Linked DNA regions of Homo sapiens. The protein of the gene in region 1 interacts with the protein of each later gene in a biochemical or structural test. Each region holds a gene or a part of one and is shown on either strand. Other genes may lie near its edges. The genes, in order: KCNH1 and MKRN1.

The links.
Region 2: the proteins of KCNH1 (region 1) and MKRN1 form a complex in vitro, tested with the Homo sapiens proteins (one study listed by BioGRID).

The regions. Positions count from the first base shown.
Region 1 is NC_000001.11:211,129,500-211,139,270, reverse strand, and holds the start of KCNH1 (voltage-gated delayed rectifier potassium channel KCNH1), read left to right. Parts: upstream 1-5,122; 5' UTR 5,123-5,325; coding exon 5,326-5,404; intron 5,405-5,896; exon of another isoform or gene 5,897-6,083; intron 6,084-6,244; exon of another isoform or gene 6,245-6,992; intron 6,993-9,771. UniProt on the Homo sapiens protein: Pore-forming (alpha) subunit of a voltage-gated delayed rectifier potassium channel that mediates outward-rectifying potassium currents which, on depolarization, reaches a steady-state level and do not inactivate.
Region 2 is NC_000007.14:140,468,623-140,478,287, forward strand, and holds part of MKRN1 (E3 ubiquitin-protein ligase makorin-1), read right to left. Parts: intron 5,868-9,665; exon of another isoform or gene 5,759-5,867; intron 5,206-5,758; exon of another isoform or gene 5,153-5,205; intron 3,390-5,152; coding exon 3,261-3,389; intron 1-3,260. UniProt on the Homo sapiens protein: E3 ubiquitin ligase catalyzing the covalent attachment of ubiquitin moieties onto substrate proteins. These substrates include FILIP1, p53/TP53, CDKN1A and TERT.

The DNA.
Region 1 (9,771 bases):
CATTGAAAATGTTTCCACTAAAGTATCAAATGGCCAACTAATCATTAGAGCTAATGGACATTTTCCAGTGTTTATCTCTACAGTGTACAATAAATGATGCTTTTCTTCTTTCTTTTCATTTAAAGACCTTTCCCCTCTGGGCTTCTATAAAACCACTTCTCTCGGTTCCCTCCACTTCTAAACTGCTCCTTCTCAGTCTCCTTTGAAAGCTATAAACTGATGATTTCCAATTTTGAGCACCACCCAGATGTTTCTCTTGGGTTCTAGATGTGAATATCCAACTACCTACTTGATATTTCTCTGAAATGTCCTGCAGGCAACTCAGCCTTTTCATAACTGAATACAATTTTCCCCAAGTTTGTTTTAAGAATTGAAGTATAGTGATATTGACATTGTTCATGAACTTCAAAGTAGGAGAAATTTTACATGAATGGAGAAGAGCAGTGGTTTAAATATGGCAATGAGGAACTAGACAATTTCTCACTTCAACTTCTGGCTTCTAGGTACATGGACTGTGACAGAATAAATATATTCCAAAAAAGTGGGACCGACGGGACTCTGAGACTTTAGGGGAAAGCCAGATCTCAGTTAAGAGGAGGAAAGAAAGTCTTAGCTGGGTGTGGTGGCTCATGCATTTAATCCCAGAATTTAGGGAGGCTGAGGTGGGAGGATTACTTGGGCTCAGGCCCAGGAGTTCGAGACCAGCCTGGGAAACATAGGGAGACCCTGTCTCTACAAGAAAAAAAAAAAATTAGCTAGGTATGGTGGCCTGCCCCTATAGCTACTTAGGAGGCTGAGGTGGGAGGATCACTTGAGATCAGGAAGTTGAGCCTGCAGTGAGCCATGATTTTGCTACTGCAGTCCAGCCTAGGCAACAGATCAAGACCCTGTCTCAAAAAAAAAAAAAAAAAATCTTAAGCGAAGAGGTCAAGTTGAACTATAGATTATTTAAAAAGAAAGGAAGATTTAGAGGGCACATTGGAGACAGGAAAGCAGTTGAAAGAAATGACGAAGAACATACACATTCATTAAATATTTGTTGAATTTCTTGAGGGCAGGTGCCAATCATAACCATCTTTTAATCCTTAGAACCTATCCCTGTCTGCTATATACTAGACACGATGCAAATGTTTGTCATAATAAAATGAGACTGTTGTAAATGACTTTTAATTATTTCCCACTGAGGGAAGGGTGTGATGAAAGATCCTTTTCTCTTTTGTTTAGAGGAAATGAGAAAGAAGAATAGCTTAGGGCACTTGGAAGGATATAATTCAATTCTACAAACATTTCACACTATCTATTGGGTTAACCATGGGTGAGTGTAGACCCACATCAGTGCATTCTTTTCCCCAGTCAATTAGATTCAGGGACTAGTATTTCCTTTGAAGCAGATTCTGTCCATTCTCCCAACACTAGGGAAATACATCTATAGCAGGGAATCTTTTTTTTTTTCAATGGATATAGTCTGCCCAACATTCTTCCTATAAGATTATTCAAATAGAAGTTTTGTTAACAGAAATCACATATAATAAGTCAGTCAGTCATTGGGCTATAGAAGCTGAAATTTCTCATGCTGCAAATTCCTCCACTTTTAGATATTTAGATATTTCACTCCTGGTGGCTGAGTAGTGAAGTCGCCTCTATGTTCAATTTCTCCTCCGCTTAAGTTGCTAATGACGATGCATCCATGGCCTGCCCCTTCCAGCTCGCAGACCTAGGACTCACAGGCAACTTTCCTATGTTAGAGAGGTTCCTGGCTTTCTAAAATCTGTCACCCACACCATGTGGTCTTAATGGAAGGAAAAATGAAGTTCCTGTCTTTATATGATAACATTTGCCCCTTCTGATGTGTGGCATTGTCATCCTCTTCATTTGATAGACTTGTTGTTGTTGTTGGGAGAGATTTTTCTGTCATCTCCTGGACTCTTTTCCCAGCCAATCTGCAGATCACCATCTCCATATTCTCCCTATAGCATTATGCCTTCATCACTATCTATTACTTTTGTGAACTCACTAATTACAGTGTAGCTTAATAGCATTTATAAGAACAAAAATTGTTATAGTGTGTCTTTGTTTCAAGGAGCTCACAATCTACGGTGTGATACAGACATAAACACATCTTATAGCTAAGGGGTAAACAAAATGCTGAGGGATACAGGAGGAAAGAAGCCTAGAAATAGTAGACTCACATTTTAGAATTTATTTCAGACTCTGTATCTGAACTCTGTATCCCTGCAGAAAATGGGCTACATTTTCTGCATGGAAGGATAGAGGCAGTTGAATTGGAACTCTGGTCACAGTTATTTAAAGTTGTCCCTTTAAATGAAGGAGTGGCTTTGTCTGTTATGCAAAAATATAAGCGTTCTCAATTGGTTTGCCATGGTACATTGGTATATTGTGAATCCTTTAGAAATCTGTTACCAAGTTTTGACAAATCTGTAAGATTAAAGTTTACTCTAACTGAGATTCCCATATTACAGAGGTAGATCTCAGACAGAACTTTAAGTTGAGCAGGTGCTGGAACTGAATGTCAAGGAGGGAACAAAAGGTGGCAAGTAAAAGGTAAGAAGCACAGTATCCCGTCAACTAGCACCAAGAAAGAGGGAGTGTTTACTGGAATATTGAGAATGTGGCTGTGGACAGGGCAGAACATGATTTTATTCCTGCAGTCAGATGTGTTGTGAGTGAACCAAGGGAATGGGGGAAAAACTGGATGTACCTCCACAGACACCATGAGACACTCACATTGTGATGAAAGACTGCTGACTTTTTAGCAATTTAATTCTTAAATATTTATTTTATTTAAAAATCCATGAACACCTCCAGCTTTTTTTTTTTTTTTTATGGCAAAACAGTTCATTGTAGCTGTTCACGTAGTAATTATCTTCCTCTTGCATCCCCAGGTAATGACTGTGATCTTGACCTAAAAGCCACCTTAGTTAGTTTGAATAAGGAAGACCTTGAAAGGAAAGGTAACTGACCAGAAACACTCTTAAGAAGCACACAATGAAGAAATGATCATTTCTAAGCAAGTACTTAAAGTGCCATAACACAGTATAACAGTGCTTTTATAAGCATCCAGTCTTATTTAAGCAAAAAGACGTAAAATAATGTGATCGTGTTATGGCACACAATCTGGAGGTTTAAAACTTTAAAAAAAAGAACCACTTTGTAGTAGCACTATTTTGTTTTAGGTCTTTTAATTTCTTCAAGTGTGCCACCAAAAATTGTAGTATTCAAAAAGGTGCCAATACACACACACATACACACACACACAGAGTCCATGTTGAGATCCATTTCAGTAGTACATTTAAAATGGAAGACATCTTATTTCTTTTTCTCATCAGGTTGCCCACCAAGGCTTTAACATCTCTGATCTCAAACTAATATCATCTGTTTCCTTTTTTATCTAAGCCACAGAACATGAGAGCTCATTAAAACCTTAGAAATTTTATTAACTCTCTATGATAGTTTTCCCCTCCACATTATTTTCTTTATCTTCCTTTCACAAGCAGGATTATGAGGTTTCTTGATGGGTTTTTAATATTGTCATGAAAAATCTTCCCTTGGCATGTTTGTGCGATAACACAACTTTAAAAACCTTATTTAAATGAACTTATTCAAATGAAGTGGATAGGCACCAAACTGGCTCAGCTCAGCACCAAATACATTTCAGAATCAAGTTCTCTTCAACCAGTGTTATCTCATTTGTAATAGAACAAAGAACCACTAGACGGAGCTAGGGTTTAAGAAATCACTGTTCTAGACTAGGTAACAGGCGATGGGTAGAAGGCTATCTTAAGGAAAAAGTGTATCATTACTTGCATTTCAAATCCTATGACAGTCTTATCCAACTCTCTGCTAACAGCAATCTGTTTACTTTGTCTCTACACAAGACGAGATAAAGGGTGATATTCGTAATGGCCCAATTTATTTAGTCACTCCAATAATGACGTCTGACCTTGGCACAGCACTTTACAATTTAAGGTGCTGTCCCCATACATAATTCTTGCTTGATCTTCACAGCAACTCTGAGAGATTTCTGGGCAAGAATTAGTTCTTCTGTTTTTGAAATTAATTAACTGAGACAGGATGTCTTTGCAATACATTAGGATATGTCAGGATGGCTAACCCAGACAATTAATTTTCAGGGTTAGTTTTTTTTTCTCTTACATTTTTGTGTTGACTGTTGACTCAGTCTGAAACTAGTAAACTCTCCATTCATTTCTCCTGTGGGACATAGGCTTAGTCTCCCACCGCACCGACTGGGGATACATAGTAAAAAGGCAGGTACAGACTATGTGTGGGTCGAAATCCCCCAAAATAAGTGAACAAACGACCGTTGTCTTAGCCCCTGTCCAGAAACCTTGGGTGTATGTGGTTCTTCCGTATACCAGGGGTCAGCTGTAAAAACTAACTGTATCCTCTGCACTACAGACTACCCTTCAAGCCAAAGCCACGGTTGCTTAATTAATGCTGCCCCTCTCCTGAGCATTCGCCCTTAGAGACAAGTCCACCCCTTTGATGTTTGTCAGGCAGTTTGATACTGATCATACCAAACATCAGGAGCCTGCATTTGTGTCTACGGTAAAAACAACCCAAGACAACTCTTCTGAAGCTGAATCTGCCAGTCACTCTAAATCTGCACTATTGCAATACGACTTCATTAATTACTGCTCAAACACTGGCCTAGAATCAAGGTGGGGCAACTTTCACTAGTCAGGCTAACCTTACAGGAAGGCAAGAAGGTGTTCCCAGAGCCTCACAGGTCCCGGGGGCCCCGGCCTGAAACAGAGCAAAGGAAGAGAGTTACATCAGCACGCTCCCCTAAGACTTGTTGGGGGTGAATCCGCCCTGAAAGCTGCTCACAATGCCCTCCTCTCCACCCAGCCCATGGCACATCCTGAACACATTTCCCGGCTGAACCCAGAGGGTGGCGCTGCCGTCCCAGCCTTGGTCCACGGCCGCCCGCCACTTCCCTGCCTCTGCGGGAGCCCCCCAGCTTGGTCTCCCGCAGGCCGGCGGTGGGGCACGAGCCCGGTAGGGGGCGCCGCCGGCCCAGGCGCCGCTGCTCCCTCCGCCCACCCGGAGGCGGCTGCCGCTAGCCGAGGCCGGCGCGAGTGCACTGCGAGGCGGGCCGCAGGGAGGGAGGCGCGAAGAGGGCGCGAGGGTAGCAGCCAGAGGGAGCCGCCAGCCCTGCCTGCGGATCCCCGCCGGGCGCATGGGGCGCTTCGAGCCGGGACTGCGTGCGGGCCCCGAGGCCAGTTTCCTGCTGTCGTAAGAAGCCGCGCCAGGACGCCCGCCGGACCCCGAGCTGCTGGGAGGATGACCATGGCTGGGGGCAGGAGGGGACTAGTGGCCCCTCAAAACACGTTTCTGGAGAATATTGTTCGGCGGTCCAATGGTAAGAGGTGCATTCGGATTTCGATTACCCGGGCGTTTTATCCGTGCCTTTATTGCAGAACCTCTCGCCGCTCGGAGCCAGCAGATGCAGCAGAACCCGCGAGCTCTGCTAAGGAGCCGCGGCGCGGGCACCCAGGGCAGCCTCCCCGAGGCAGAGAAAGGTGGGCAGGGCGGGGCGGGGTCTGATGGGTCCCCATCCTAACAGGAGAGCTCTTCTGGGGACGCCTTTTGGGCCTTTCTAGCGCCCTCTCGGTCTTATCTCCAAGGATGCGTGACAGCTGCTGAGCAAAGTACTGGGAAAAGTGATGGAAAGCTGGCTGCAGCCGGAGCGGCAGCGCGCGCCCCATCGGCACTGCCCACCCTTCCGCGAAGGCTCTGGGGCTCCCGGGCTGCTCCCAGAGGCGCCGCCTCTCCCCAGGGAGAGCCAGCAGTAGAGACGGGCAACTCCAGGTCCCCGCTGCCTCAGAATGGGAGGATCCGGCTGCCTCCACCTTCCATCCCTGCAACTGAAAAGTCCGAGGTGTCGGGACGTGCTCTCGGCGGCCTGATTCCACCCCTTCACCCACCCACCACTTTCTAGGTGAAGTTAAGGCTCACCTTCGAAGTGAGGGGCAGATGGTTTTCCTGGCGTCAGGTGGGAAGTGGAGGGCACAGGTGCAGAGCGAACTAAATGGTCACAGGTACAAACCTGTTATATTTCCCCTCTTCCAAACCCACAACGGTTTTATGCCACCCTTAAGTGTTGCTCACCTATAAATTCCCAATCTCACCAAACCTATAAATAGATCCATTACCCAATAAACTGACAATCAGCACTCATCTGTTTCCTTGTGGCATTAAGATCGACGGTAGCATGAAGCCTTGAGAGGCGAGAGTCCTAGGAGCGGGGATGGAAAGGAAGAATTCCAAACGCCTTTCGGACTTAACAGAGGAGAGACCCCAACTAAGCACTTGCAGAGCGACTAGGAGTCCTGGCAGTTGGAAGGCGCAGCGCACGAGTTCATCAAATGGCTATATTGAAAGATAGCCAAGCATAAGATGCTCTTTGCAGACTCCTAGAGCCCCCACCCCACCCCTTCCAGAAACAGATGACATTCTTCTACCAGGGAGACATGAGGAGCTAACTTAGGAAATGGGTTTTAATAATGTGTAAATATCACGATTTCAGAGTCTAAGGAGCTTCTGTGTAAAATGATGAGCTTCTGTTTGGATTTAGTTAGGGATTCAGGGGAAGGGCATGAAAAGTGACTTATGCTACTAATAAACACTCTTTAATTAAACAGTGATTTAAGTTTATCTTATAATGAAACACATCAACTAGCATAGCAAATAATCACGTATTATTTAAGTACTTTCTTAGAAATGATCATTTCTTTATTGTGTGCCTCTTAAGAGTGTTTCTGGTCAGTCACCTTTCCTTTCAAGGTCTTCCTTATTCAAACTAAGGTGGCTTTTAGGTCAAGGTCACAGTCATTACCTGGGGATGCAAGGGGATGATAATTGCTATGTGAACAGCCACAATGAACTGTTTTGCCATAAAAAAGCTGGAGTTGTTCATTTATTTTTAAATAAAATAAGAGTTACTGTGCTATTATTGCTATTTTTATTGGACTATTAAGGGGTATGGAGACAATCTTGCAAATTTGGTTATCCCATTGTCAGTGACACCAACTTTCTCATAAATATCAATGACAATTCTATTTTTCAGTAAAGAGGCAGTGCCCTGTAAGTTAGAGGGGAAACCCAGTACCTAATGTATACTGTGTATGTTTTTGAGTGGAGGGAGCAGGAAGAGAAACTTACATGTAAAAGTCACAAGATGCCTTGGGTTTTAAGGGAACCTTAAGAATCTTGGAGCTGTGAAGGCAGAATACTGTCTATTTTAGTTGATCTTATTAGAGCCACTTTCCCTCTGTAATCATAGAATGTGAATAGAATAAGTCACTGGGAATATTTTTAGGATGGGCATTGTCATTTCAACACCAGTTTCAGCAGGTTGATTTCAATTAACCAATCAAATGAATAGCATCAAAAAAAATGAAGCATCTTGGGAGAGTTGGATGAATTTTTAAAATTATTATTTCAGAATAAATGGTTCTCATCTTGAAATATGGGACTCAATGTTTAAAAGGTGATCCCTTTTATAATATTTCCTGAACACAAATGGAAGAAAAAATGTGAACTCCTAGAAATATCACAATATCTGCATGCATTATATTATTTTACTGTGGTGGAAAAAGTCTATTTAAAGATATTGATTGTCTCATTCTAAAATCCATGAGCCCTTTTTTGGACATTACGGTATTAAAATAGCATTTTACCTTTGAATAGCAATATTTTATGATCATTTTATTAGATATTTTCTCCCAGTGGTCCTGTGCAGTATTAATGTTCCTCTTTTACAGATCAGAAAACTGAGTCCTAGGAATATTAAGTGGCTTATTCAAAGTGGCAGAGCAAACAATGCCTGAGGCTGGTATTCCTTAGAGGACATCTATCATATATCCTTCTCTCAGCATTATAATTTCTCCAGCTTTTATGACTTAGTCTGTGGAACTATTTTTATCATCCTTTAAAAACTTCTCATATGATAATGAATAATAGTACTGACTTCATTTTGGGTTATTTGAATATCTGATGCCCGGAATATCATAGAGCTGTGGGAAGAGACAGACCTTAAATATTATCTAGTCTGCCTCTCCTTCCCCATCATTGTATAAATAAGGAAATTGATGCAAGAGGCTTTCCTCAAATATTTAAGGGCAGAACTAATGAGGCCCCAAACCATTTGAGTCCAATGTCAGATTCTTTATGGTACACCATGCAAAAACCCTTTCCTCATGTTACCATTATATTCTCTCAAGAAGCATAATTTCCCAGTGGAGATTAAATAAAATGTTATAACAACAAGAACAACATCCATCTTGGCTAACAGCCACACTACCACATCTCAACAGAATAATAGGGCAAAGGAAAGGCTAATTATATTTCAAGGAAATGCAGTCTGTTCACCTTTGTCAGTGGTTTAGCTGAAGGCAAAGGCGGGGATAATGGGCACTTAACATCTGTGTGCCCCATTATAAAGTACCAAGTCACTTTTCACAGAGTATCACCTTTGATCCTCATAAGCTAGTAGAGGAGGTGCAGTCTCTCCATTTTAGAGTTTAAGGAACTAAAATCCTTAAACTAAAACTCACCTAAGAATCCTCAGGTTAAGTGATTTACCTACAATTCGTAAGAGGCAGAATTAGGAAAAGGCAATTAGAGACAGATCAGGGACTAGCCAGCAGTTGTTTTTGGTTTATTCATTCAACAAAGATTTATTGAATGTATTTATGGAACACTGAGGATACAGTGGTAAACAAGAAACCCTCCTTGTGATTAGTAAATTACATTCTAGTGAATCTTGGTCCAAGGTTCTTGCCCCTATTTTACAGTGTTGACCGGCTGCGACTGTTTAGGCCTGTCACTGTATTTAAAAAACATTTCTAAGGTGTTTACTGGTCTTGCTGGTACTAAAACCGACTTTTAACTTTCTTTGGTACATTTTGAATCCCATTTAAGGAAAGATTTGATAATTATCTGTTCTTTAAATTGCCGTAAGTAGGCAGCAGAAATAATTAATACTCCATATTTTATTTGATTTTGCTTATGGTCATGTCAGTGATCATTTTAAATCCTACTGGCTTTGTTGCCACATAGGCAAAACCAGCCTGTTTCTCTTTATATTCATGGTTGGAAACTGTTGTTACAGAATATTTTTTGATAGTTGCTTAAATCTGCAGGCACTTGTTGTCAGAATGTTTGCTGAAGCAAATAGGAGATCTGTCTTAGAAAGGCTGGCAGACCTTGGTGCCAGGAAACTACAAAAATATTACTCTAAATGGTCCCATTCTGGGCAGAACATATGTTTTAGTGTTCGGGAACCTATATCAAACAATTGTAGGTGCCAGTAAAAATCCATGCACATTAGCAGGAGTGAAACACAGCACATTTTGGTACAGATTTATGTACATGTATAATTTACAGATTGCTAAATCAGCTGTGTTTTTGTATAGTGTTAAGTTGGTTCAGGTTGTTGATATAATTAGTTAGCAAACAGGATGAGAACCACGAGTAATGTTGTGTCTCCTCATGGGTGTTTTGAGCCATGGTAATATTTATAAAACAGAAAACTGGTTAAAATCCATTGTGCCTCTACAAGGGGGAATGGATGATAATCTGGATTATTACCAGCTCAGCAGAGCTTGTTTTTTCTTGTAAAATATTCTAAGACAATCTTCAGCCAAGGCTCAGCTATCTTTCTCTGAAAGTGTCAAAAAGTTAAATCTGTTGGCTGATGTTAGATGGGGGATTGAGAAGCTGAAG
Region 2 (9,665 bases), on another chromosome or scaffold:
CCAGGGAGTCGGAGGTTGCAGTGAGTTGAGATCATGCCACAGCACTCCAACCTGGCGACAGACTGAGACTCTGTCTCACAAAAAAAAAAAAAAAAAAAAAAAAGACATGCCTGGTGGAGAGTTTGAGAATAATGTCATTGTGTCATTTTCCCCCTTTTTCAGCAATAATGCAATGACAAATTAGCAAAGGGCAAAATGAGTAGCAACTAAACAAAGTTTCTATGAGATCAACTTCTGAACTTCTACACAGTCATTTGAAAAAGATCTTCTCTTTCCCCTCATCCTTACTGGACTCTTAATAAACAGATGTGGGATGACTTAACATTAATATCCCACACCATCAATAATGTCAGGTTCTGAACTCTATTTGAACCCAGTGGCTCACACTACATTTTCTGATAATGACATTAAAATTGACTATGACTATGGCACAGTGGCTCACGCCTGTAATCTCAGCACTTTGGGAGGCTGAGGCTGGCGGATCACGAGGTCAGGAGATCAAGACCACCCTGGCTAACACAGTGAAACCCCGTCTATACTAAAAATACAAAAAATTAGCCAGGCGTGGTGGCGGGCGCCTGTAGTCCCAGCTACTCAGGAGGCTGAGGCAGGAGAATGGCGTGAACCCGGGAGGCGGAGCTTGCAGTGAGCTGAGATCCCACCACCGCACTCCAGCCTGGGTGACAGCGAGACTCCATCTCAAAAAAAAAAAAAAATTTACTATGACACTGTCAAAAGTCTTACCGAGGGTAGTGGTTTAAAGTACATACAAAACTCTTTGATATGCCTTCCTTCAAAAGGTAGAGCCCAATCCTCTCCCTTTACATGTGGGCTGGACTTAGTAACTTAGTCCAGAATCAGTGGAAATAACAGTATATGACTTCTGACACTAGGTCATAAAAGGCATTGTGGCTTTTCCTTGCCTCCTCTGTTAAATTGTTTGCTCTGGGGAAAGCTAGCTGCCAAGCTGCAAGGATACTAAAGTATCCCTATGAAAAGGCCCATGTGGGCCAGGCGGGGTGGCTCACGCCTGTAATCCCAGCGCTTTGGGAGGCAAAGGCAGGTGGACTGCCTGAGCTCAGGAATTTGAGACCAGCCTGGCCAACATAGTGAAACCCCGTCTCTACTAAAAATACAAAAGTTAGTGGGGTGTGGGCCGGGCGCGGTGGCTCATGCCTACAATCCCAGCACTTTGGGAGGCTGGTGTGGGCTGGTCAGGAGATCAAGACCATCCTTTCAACAAGGTGAAACCCCATCTCTACTAAAAATACAAAAATTAGCTGAGTGTGGCGGTGCATGCCTGTAATCCCAGCTACTCGGGAGGCTGAGGCAGGAGAATCACTTGAACCTGGGAGGTGGAGGTTGCAGTGAGCTGAGGCTGTGCCACTGAACTCCAGCCTGGCGACAGAGCTAGGCTCTGTCTCAAAAAAAAAAAAAAAAAAAAAAAAATTAGCCAGGTGTGGTGGTGCATGCTTGTAATCCTAGCTACTCTGGAGGCCAAGGCAGGAGAATCTCTCGAACGCGGGAGGCAGAGGTTGCAGTGAGCTGAGATCATGCCATTGCACTCCAGCCTGGGTGACCAGCAAAACTCCGTCTTGAAAAAAAAAAAAGGCCAAGTGGTGAGAAACCAAAGTCTCCTGCCAACAGTCATGAGAGTAAGACCTCTTAAAAACAATACTGGGCTAGGCACCATGGCTCACGGCTGTAATCTCAGCACTTTGGGAAGCCGAACCGCGTGGATCACCTGAGGTCAGGAGTTCGAGACCAGCCTGGCCAACATGGTGAAACTCCGTCTCTACTAAAAATACAAAAATTAGCTAGGTGTGGTGGCGGGCGCCTGTAATCCCAGCTACTCCGGAAGATGAGGCAGGAGAATCGCTTGAACCCAGGAGGCGGAGGTTGCAGTGAGCCGAAATTGCGCCACTGCACTCCAGCCTGGGCGACAAGAGCAAGACTCCATCCTAAACAAAACAAACAAAAAAACCCAAACAAACAAACAAAAAACAATGCTGGCTGGGCACTGTGTCTCACACCTGTAATCCCAGCACTCTGGGAGGCCGAGGTGGGCAGATCACTTGAGGTCAGGAGTTCGAGACTAGCCTGGCCAACATGATGAAACCCTGTCTCTGCCAAAAATATAAAAAATTAGCCGGGCATAGTGGCACGCAGATGTAATCCCATCTACTTGGGAAACTGAGGCAGGAGAATTGCTTGAATCTGGGAGGCAGAGGTTGCAGTGAGCCGAGATCTTGCCACTGCACTCCAGCCTGGGCAACAGAGGGACAAGACTCGGTCTCACACACACAAAAAATATCCTGGAGTCCCCATCAAGTCTTCAGATGACTTGCTAAAATTTTGACTGCCATCTCATAAGTGTCTCTGAGATAGAACCATCCAGCTAAGGCACTCACAGAATCCGGAACCCCAGAAACTGAGATAATAAATGTTCACTGTTTTAACCTACTAAATTTGGGGATGGGCCAGTTTCTGGGGCTCATGCTTGTAATCCCAACACTTTTCGGAGGCCAAGGCAGGAAGATTGCTTGAGCCCAGGAATCTGAGACCAGCCTACGCAACATATTAAGACCCCCATCTCTACAAAAAACTAAATAAATGAGGTGGTGCATCCCTGTGGTCCCAGCTACTTGGGAGGCTGAGGTGAGAGGATCATTTCAGCCTGGTAAGTTGAGGCTGCAGTGAGAAGTGACCACACCACTGCACTCCAGCCTGGGCAACACAGTAAGACCCTGTCTCAAAAAAATAAATAAAAAATAAATTTGAGGGTTACTTGTTTAACATCCACAGATAATACACCTAGTCATTTCTGAACTAGGAGGATAGAAAAGCCCTACCCAATTTTTTTTTAAGGTGGAGTCTCGCTCTGTTGCCCAGGCTGGAGCGCAGTGGCGGGCTCTTGGCTCAGTGCAACATCCACCTCCCGGGTTCATGCAATTCTCCTGCTTCAGCCTCCGAAGTAGCTGGGATTACAGACGCACACCACCATGCCCAGCTAATTTTTCTATATTTTGTAGACATGAGGTCTCACTAGGTTACCCAGGCTGGTCTCAAACTTCCAAGATCAAGCAATCCTCCTACCTAAGCATCCCAAAGTGCTGGGATTATAGGCATGAGCCACTGCCCAGCCAAGAGTCATTTTCAAAGCATTATTTTTAATCAGTGACATATAAAGCTATCAGAAGTATGTCTTTTACCTTTTTCCTCCAACCCACCCCTGAACAAATTTATAAACAAATTCTTACCTGCAGCGGTCTCCATAAATACAGTACCCTCGCTGAAAATACTTGCACACTACACTATACGGACTGTCAGAGAGGTCATGCGAGTAGCGACAGTTGTCTCCTTCCTTACAAACCCCATGCATAAAATACCTGTGAGACGAAAGACCACAAAACTGGATTAAAACCAATCCTTGAAAATATTAAAACTAATTAGTATTCATGACTAATATATTCAACCAGTAAATACACAAACATACGAAATAAACACAAAGAAAGGGCCAGGCATGGTGGCTCATGCCTGTAATCCCAGTACCTTTGGGAGGCTGAGGTGAGTGGCTCACCTGAGGTCAGGGGTCTAAGACCAGCGGTTCGAGACCAGCCTGGGCAACATGGTGAAACCCCGTCTCTACTAAAAATACAAAAATTGGCTGGTGTGGTGGCACACATGTTAATCCCAGCTACTCAGGAGGCTGAGGCAGGAGAACTGCTTACACGTGGGAGGCTGAGGTTTCAATGAGCCGAGATCGCGCCATTGCACTCCAGCCTGGGAGACAGAGCAAGACTCCATTTCAAAAAAAAAAAATAAAAAGAAGGTGATAAGAAAACAGGAGTAAAGCAAGTGTATTAGTCCGTTTTTGCATTGTGTTTTTGCTTTGTAGCTGGGACTACAGGCGCCGCCACCACGCCCGGCTAATTTCTTGTATTTTTAGTAGAGACAGGGTTTCACCATGTTAGCCAGGATGGTCTCGATCTCCTGACCTTGTGATCTGCCCACCTCGGCCTCCCAAAGTGCTGAGATTACAAGCGTGAGCCACTGCGCCTGGCCCTTGTTTTTGCATTGTTACAACGAACTATTTTGACATTCCAGCCTGGGTGATGGAGCACGACTATGACTCTGTCTCAAAAAAATGTAATAATAATACGCCTTAGATTATGAAAACTGTTTAACTTACATAACAAAAAGAAAAAAAAAGGGCCAGGCGTGGTGGCCCACACCTGTAATCCCAGCACTTTGGGAGGCCAAGGCGGATGGATCACGAGGTCAGGAGATCAAGACCATCCTGGCTAATATGGTGAAACCCCATCTCTACTAAAAGTACAAAAAATTAGCCGGGCATGGTGGCAGGCACCTGTAATCCCAACTACTCGGGAGGCTGAGGCAGGGATTGCAGTGAGCCGAGATCGTGCCATTGAGCCACTGCGCTCCAGCCTGGACAACAGAGAGACTCCATCTCAAAAAGAAAAAGAAAAAGAAAAAGAAAAAAAGATATAGTCTACGTCAAAGAATTTCTCCTCCAAACAAAAACCAATGAATATAAGTATATGTCTTGTTTTTAAATGATACCACCAAAAAAAAAAAAAAAAACATCATCCAGATTCACCCCAAGTTGAGTTTGCCTTCGGTGAAAACCTGGGCCATATATTATTTCTGAAGTTCCTTCCACTGTGCAGACTCTGTCTCCATGAGACACTGTGCAGTAAAAGACAAAATTTACTAGAATCCCCCTACTGCTGTGCCTCTTAGAAACCTAATAGTGGCCCCCAACATAGAGAACAAGAAACTGCCAAGTTACCCTGTAAGGGTACAAGAGAACCAAACAGCACCCTCAGAGTATCTCTAGGCATCTTAACAACCTCTTTAGGAATTTCTACAAATTATAGAATAGATAAGGCATTTAATCAATTCATCTGCAGTGACACTTCTTACTTTGATATTTAACTTTTAATGAGTGAGTATACCATTTATCAAACTAGATTATAAATTCCTGATGGGTAAAGACTGGTTTATTCCCCTTTTTATCTCCAACTATCTGTGCACATAATATATACTTGTTAGAAAAAGGTAGAAAGCCGGGTTCGGTGGCTCATGCCTGTAATCCCAGCACTTTGGGAGGCCAAGGCGGGTGGATTACCTGAGGTTGGGAGTTTGAGACCAGCCTGACCAACATGGTGAAAGCGGTACCTACTAAAAATACAAAAATTAGCCGAGTGTGATGGTACAAGCCTGTAATCCCAGCTACTCTGGAGGCTGAGAGAGGAAAATCGCTGGAACCCAGGAGATGGCGATTGCACCGAGCCAAGATTGTATCACTGCACTCTAGCCTGGGCAACAACAGCGAAACTCCGTCTCAAAAAAAAAAAAAAAAGAAAGAAAGAAAGAAAGAAAGAAAGAAAGAAAGAAAGAAAGAAAGAAAGAAAGAAAGAATAAAAGACTGTAGGGTGGGCCCGGTGGCTCACACCTACAATCCCAGCACTTTGGGAGGCAGAGGCAGGTGGATCACCTGAGGTCAGGTGTTCAAAACCAGCATGGCCAACATGGTGAAACCCACTATCTACCAAAAATACAAAAATTAGGCCAGGTGCGGTGGCTCACACCTGTAATCCCAGCACTTTGGGAGGCTGAGGCAGGTGGATCATGAGGTCAGGAGCTCAAGACCATCCTGGCTAACACAGTGAAACCCTGTTTCTACTAAAAATACAAAAAAAACAAACAATTAGCCAGGCATGGTGGCACACACCTGTAGTCCCAGCTACTTGGGAGGCTGAGGCAGAATTGCTTGAACTCGCAGTGGGTTGGGGGGGGCCCAGAGGTTGCAGTGAACCAGGATCACGCCACTGAGACTCCGTCTCAAAAAAAAAATAAATAAATAAAAGGCTGTAGAAGACAGCTAGATGTGATGGTGAATCATGGTAGCGATAGCAAATTAATTTTTCTTTCCCAGTTGCATAATCTTTTTAATACCATTTAATATTTATTACTTATTTCCTCTCACAACCACTATGTAGTTTCCAAGTAATAAATTTCACTATGGACGTCACAGCACTCAGATAAAGAATTTCTGAAGGATTTCCTTCTTTCTTTTTTTTTTTTTTTGAGACGAAATCTCACTCTGTCACCCAGGCTGGAGTGCAGTGGTGCAATCTTGGCTCACTGCAGCCTCTGCCTCTTGGGATCAAGTGATTCTCCCACCTCAGCCTCCAGAGTGGCTGGGATTACAGGTGCCCGCCACCACGCCCAGCTAATTTTTGTATTTTTAGTAGAGAACGGGTTTCGTCATGTTGGCCAGGCTGGTCTCGAACTCCTGACCTCAAGTGATCCACCTGCCTTGGCCTCCCAAAGTACTAGAATTACAGGGGTGAGACACCACGCCCAGCTGATCTTTAAGTTACGTTAACCACATTTTTAAAAACTTTTGAGGCCAGGTACGGGGGCTCATGCCTGTAATCCCAGGACTTCGGGAGGCCAAGGTGGGTGGATCACCTGAGGTCAGGAGTTCAAGACCAGCCTGGGCAACATGGTGAAACCCCATCTCTACTAAACGTACAAATAATTAGCCGAGTGTGATGGCACGTGCCTGTAATCCCAGCTTCTCGGAAGGCTGAGGCACCAGAATTCCTTGAACCCAGGAGGCAGAGGTTGTAGTGAGCCGAGATCGTGCCACTGCACTCCAGCTTGGGCGACACAGACTCCATCTCAGAAAACAAACAAACAAACAAACAAAACACAACTTTCAAGGCCAAGCATGGTGGCTCACACCTGTAATCCCAGCACTTTAGGAGGCCGAGGCGGGTGAAACACTTGAGCTTAGGAGTTCAAGACCAGCCTAGGCAACAGGGTGAAACCCTGTCTCTATCAAAAATGCAAAAAAAAATTAGCCTGGGGTGGTGGCACGTGCCTGTAATTCCAGCTACTGGGGAGGTTCAAGCAGGAGGATTGCTTGAGCCTGGGAGGTGGAGGCTGCAATGAGCCAAGACACTGCCACTGCATTCCAGCCTAGGGGACAGAGCGAGACCCTATCTCAAAAAATACAAATAAATACAAATAAAAATCAAGAAAAGAGTTTTTTGAAAAATTAAAAATTAAACACTTGTTTTTTTGTGTATTATTTCAACTACCAGAACACTTATCTGCCATTATAGAAGCACTCTAATAAAGAGGGGTCTAAATTCAAATTACAACTTCTCTTTAAGTATTAACTGTTCTAACCTCACACACTCAAGGTAACTCAAGGTAGCAGATGCAATGAGCATTTCTGTTTCTTAGTATTGCTCTAATAAAAGATATGAAAAACAGCCTGGTGGTGGCAGCATAACACAGTTTCTGAGGAAAGGTATAAAACACAATGAAAACCCCAGGAGAAACATTAGAAAAAATGTAACCAGTAGGAAAATACAGGTGATTCCGAGCAATTAAAAACATTCTAATCAAAACTTCTAAGTGAAGAAAATAGCTTTAGTCAAATTCCTAGATACAGGAGTGATGTGCTATAGGGAGAAATGAGCACAAACACTAAAACACACCTCTACCTGATTCTTTAGGTGATGTTTACCTAGCAAACATATTGAAAATGTTTATTTATAATACAGTACATACATCTGCACTCTCTTGAACACCTAATATTGTGTCTCCCATTGCTGGCGTGCAATGTTTACTTACTGAATGATTGAATAAGGTAGTTCCAGAAAAAATATACATGTGGCCGGGCGTAATCCCACCTACTCAGGAGGCTGAGGCAGGAGAATCGCTTGAACCCAGGAGGCAGAGGTTGCAGTGAGCTGAGATCTCGCCACTGCACTCCAGCCTGGGCGACAGAGCGACACTCCATCTCAAAAAAAAAAAAAAAAAAGGAAGATACACATGTGTTCTGTTAAGTACTTTGTCTTTGGTAATTTACAAGTTTTGTTTTTTTTTTTTTTAATGAAAGCAGAGGAATCTTACAAAGTTCCTGTTAAAGTGGGTAATTCTAGGTATATGACTTTATCAACATCACTCAAGCATTTACTCAGTATCTGCTCAGGATACTCAGTAACTGAGTATCCTGTTCATGATACTGGAACTGAGGAAAGAAACTGAGGAACTGAGGAAAGAAAGCCCTGCAGATAAAATAGGGCCCTACTCTTCTCAGAGAGCTCAAAGTGAACGATAAGGATCATAGACCGGGTGCGGTGGCTCACGCCTCTAATCCCAGCACTTTGGGAGGCTGAGGCCGGCAGATCACCTGAGGTCGGGAGTTCAAGACCAGCCTGACCAACACGGAGAAAGCCCGTCTCTACTAAAAATACAAAATTAGTCAGGTGGGCATGGTGGTGCACGCCTGTAATCCCAGCTACTAAGGCATCTGTAATGCCAGAGACTGAGGCAGGAGAATCAATTAAACCTGGGAGGCGGGGGTTGTGGTAAGTAGAGATCACACCATTGCACTCCAACCTGGGAAACAAGAGGGAAACTCTGTCTCAAAAAAAAAAAAAAAAAAATGATAGTTGACATTCCTCTATCTAAAGGAGAAAATAGTTTTAAGTAAGAGATCATGTTGGTACCTAGAACAACCGAAAACAATGTCAAACACTAAAACCCCAGACCTATCAAGGAATCTGCACAACAATAAAAAACTGTCTCAAGCAAAAGCTATACAAAAAACCCCCAAAAACTAGTAAATCTAAGCTCTTTCTTTTCTTTCTTTTTCTTTTTTGTTTTTCTTCTGACAGAGTTTCACTTTCGCCCAGGCTGGAGTGAAGTGGTGTGATATTGGCTCACCGCAACCTCTGCCTCCTGGGTTCAAGCAACTCCCTGCCTCAGCCTCCGGAGTAGCTGAGATTACAAGCGCCTGTCACCACGCCCGGCTAATGTTTTTTGTATTTTCAGTAGAGACGGGGTTTCACCATCTTGGCCAGGCTGGTCTTGAGCTCCTGACCTCGTGATCCACCTGCCTTGGCCTCCCAAAGTGCTGGGATTACAGGTGTGAGCCACTGTGCCCGGCCTAATTTTTGTATTCTTAGTAGAGACAGGGTTTCACCATGTTGGCCAGGCTGGTCTCGAACTCCTTACCTCAGGCGATCCGCCCGCCTCAGCCTCCCAAAATGCTGGGATTACAGGCGTGAGCCACCACGCCGACCTAGCCACCCCGACAGGCCGGTTTCAATCTTTTAAAAGATGTAACTAGCACATATAGATCAACTGTAGCATTGTAAAAGGGAAACAGATATTCAAATAATTTGCTCCATGAGTAGAAACTTTAAAATCATCATTCCTGGCAATATTCCACTTTTACAATCCACCGATGAATAAGACAAGTGACCTGAAATTGCGTTTATGCTTTCTACATCCCATTATGTAAAATAATTAAGCTTATCCTTCACACCTTAAATGTATCATATCAAAGGCTGAGAGACCTTCGAAGGTCGCCAGGATAAATGTATCACATCAAAGACTGGGAAGGTTTCAAATTTCACCCTTAATACTACAAGTTCTAATTAGGAATCATTTTTACATACTTGCATATAAATTATACCACCCAGGTGAAAACCGGCATTTCAGTTGATTTATTCAACTGATAGAAAAAGAAAAGCTTACAGTCGCTACTGATCACTATTTAAAAACCGGAAAATAAAAAACGTACAATTAAATGCCCTCTTCTGCGTAGAGCT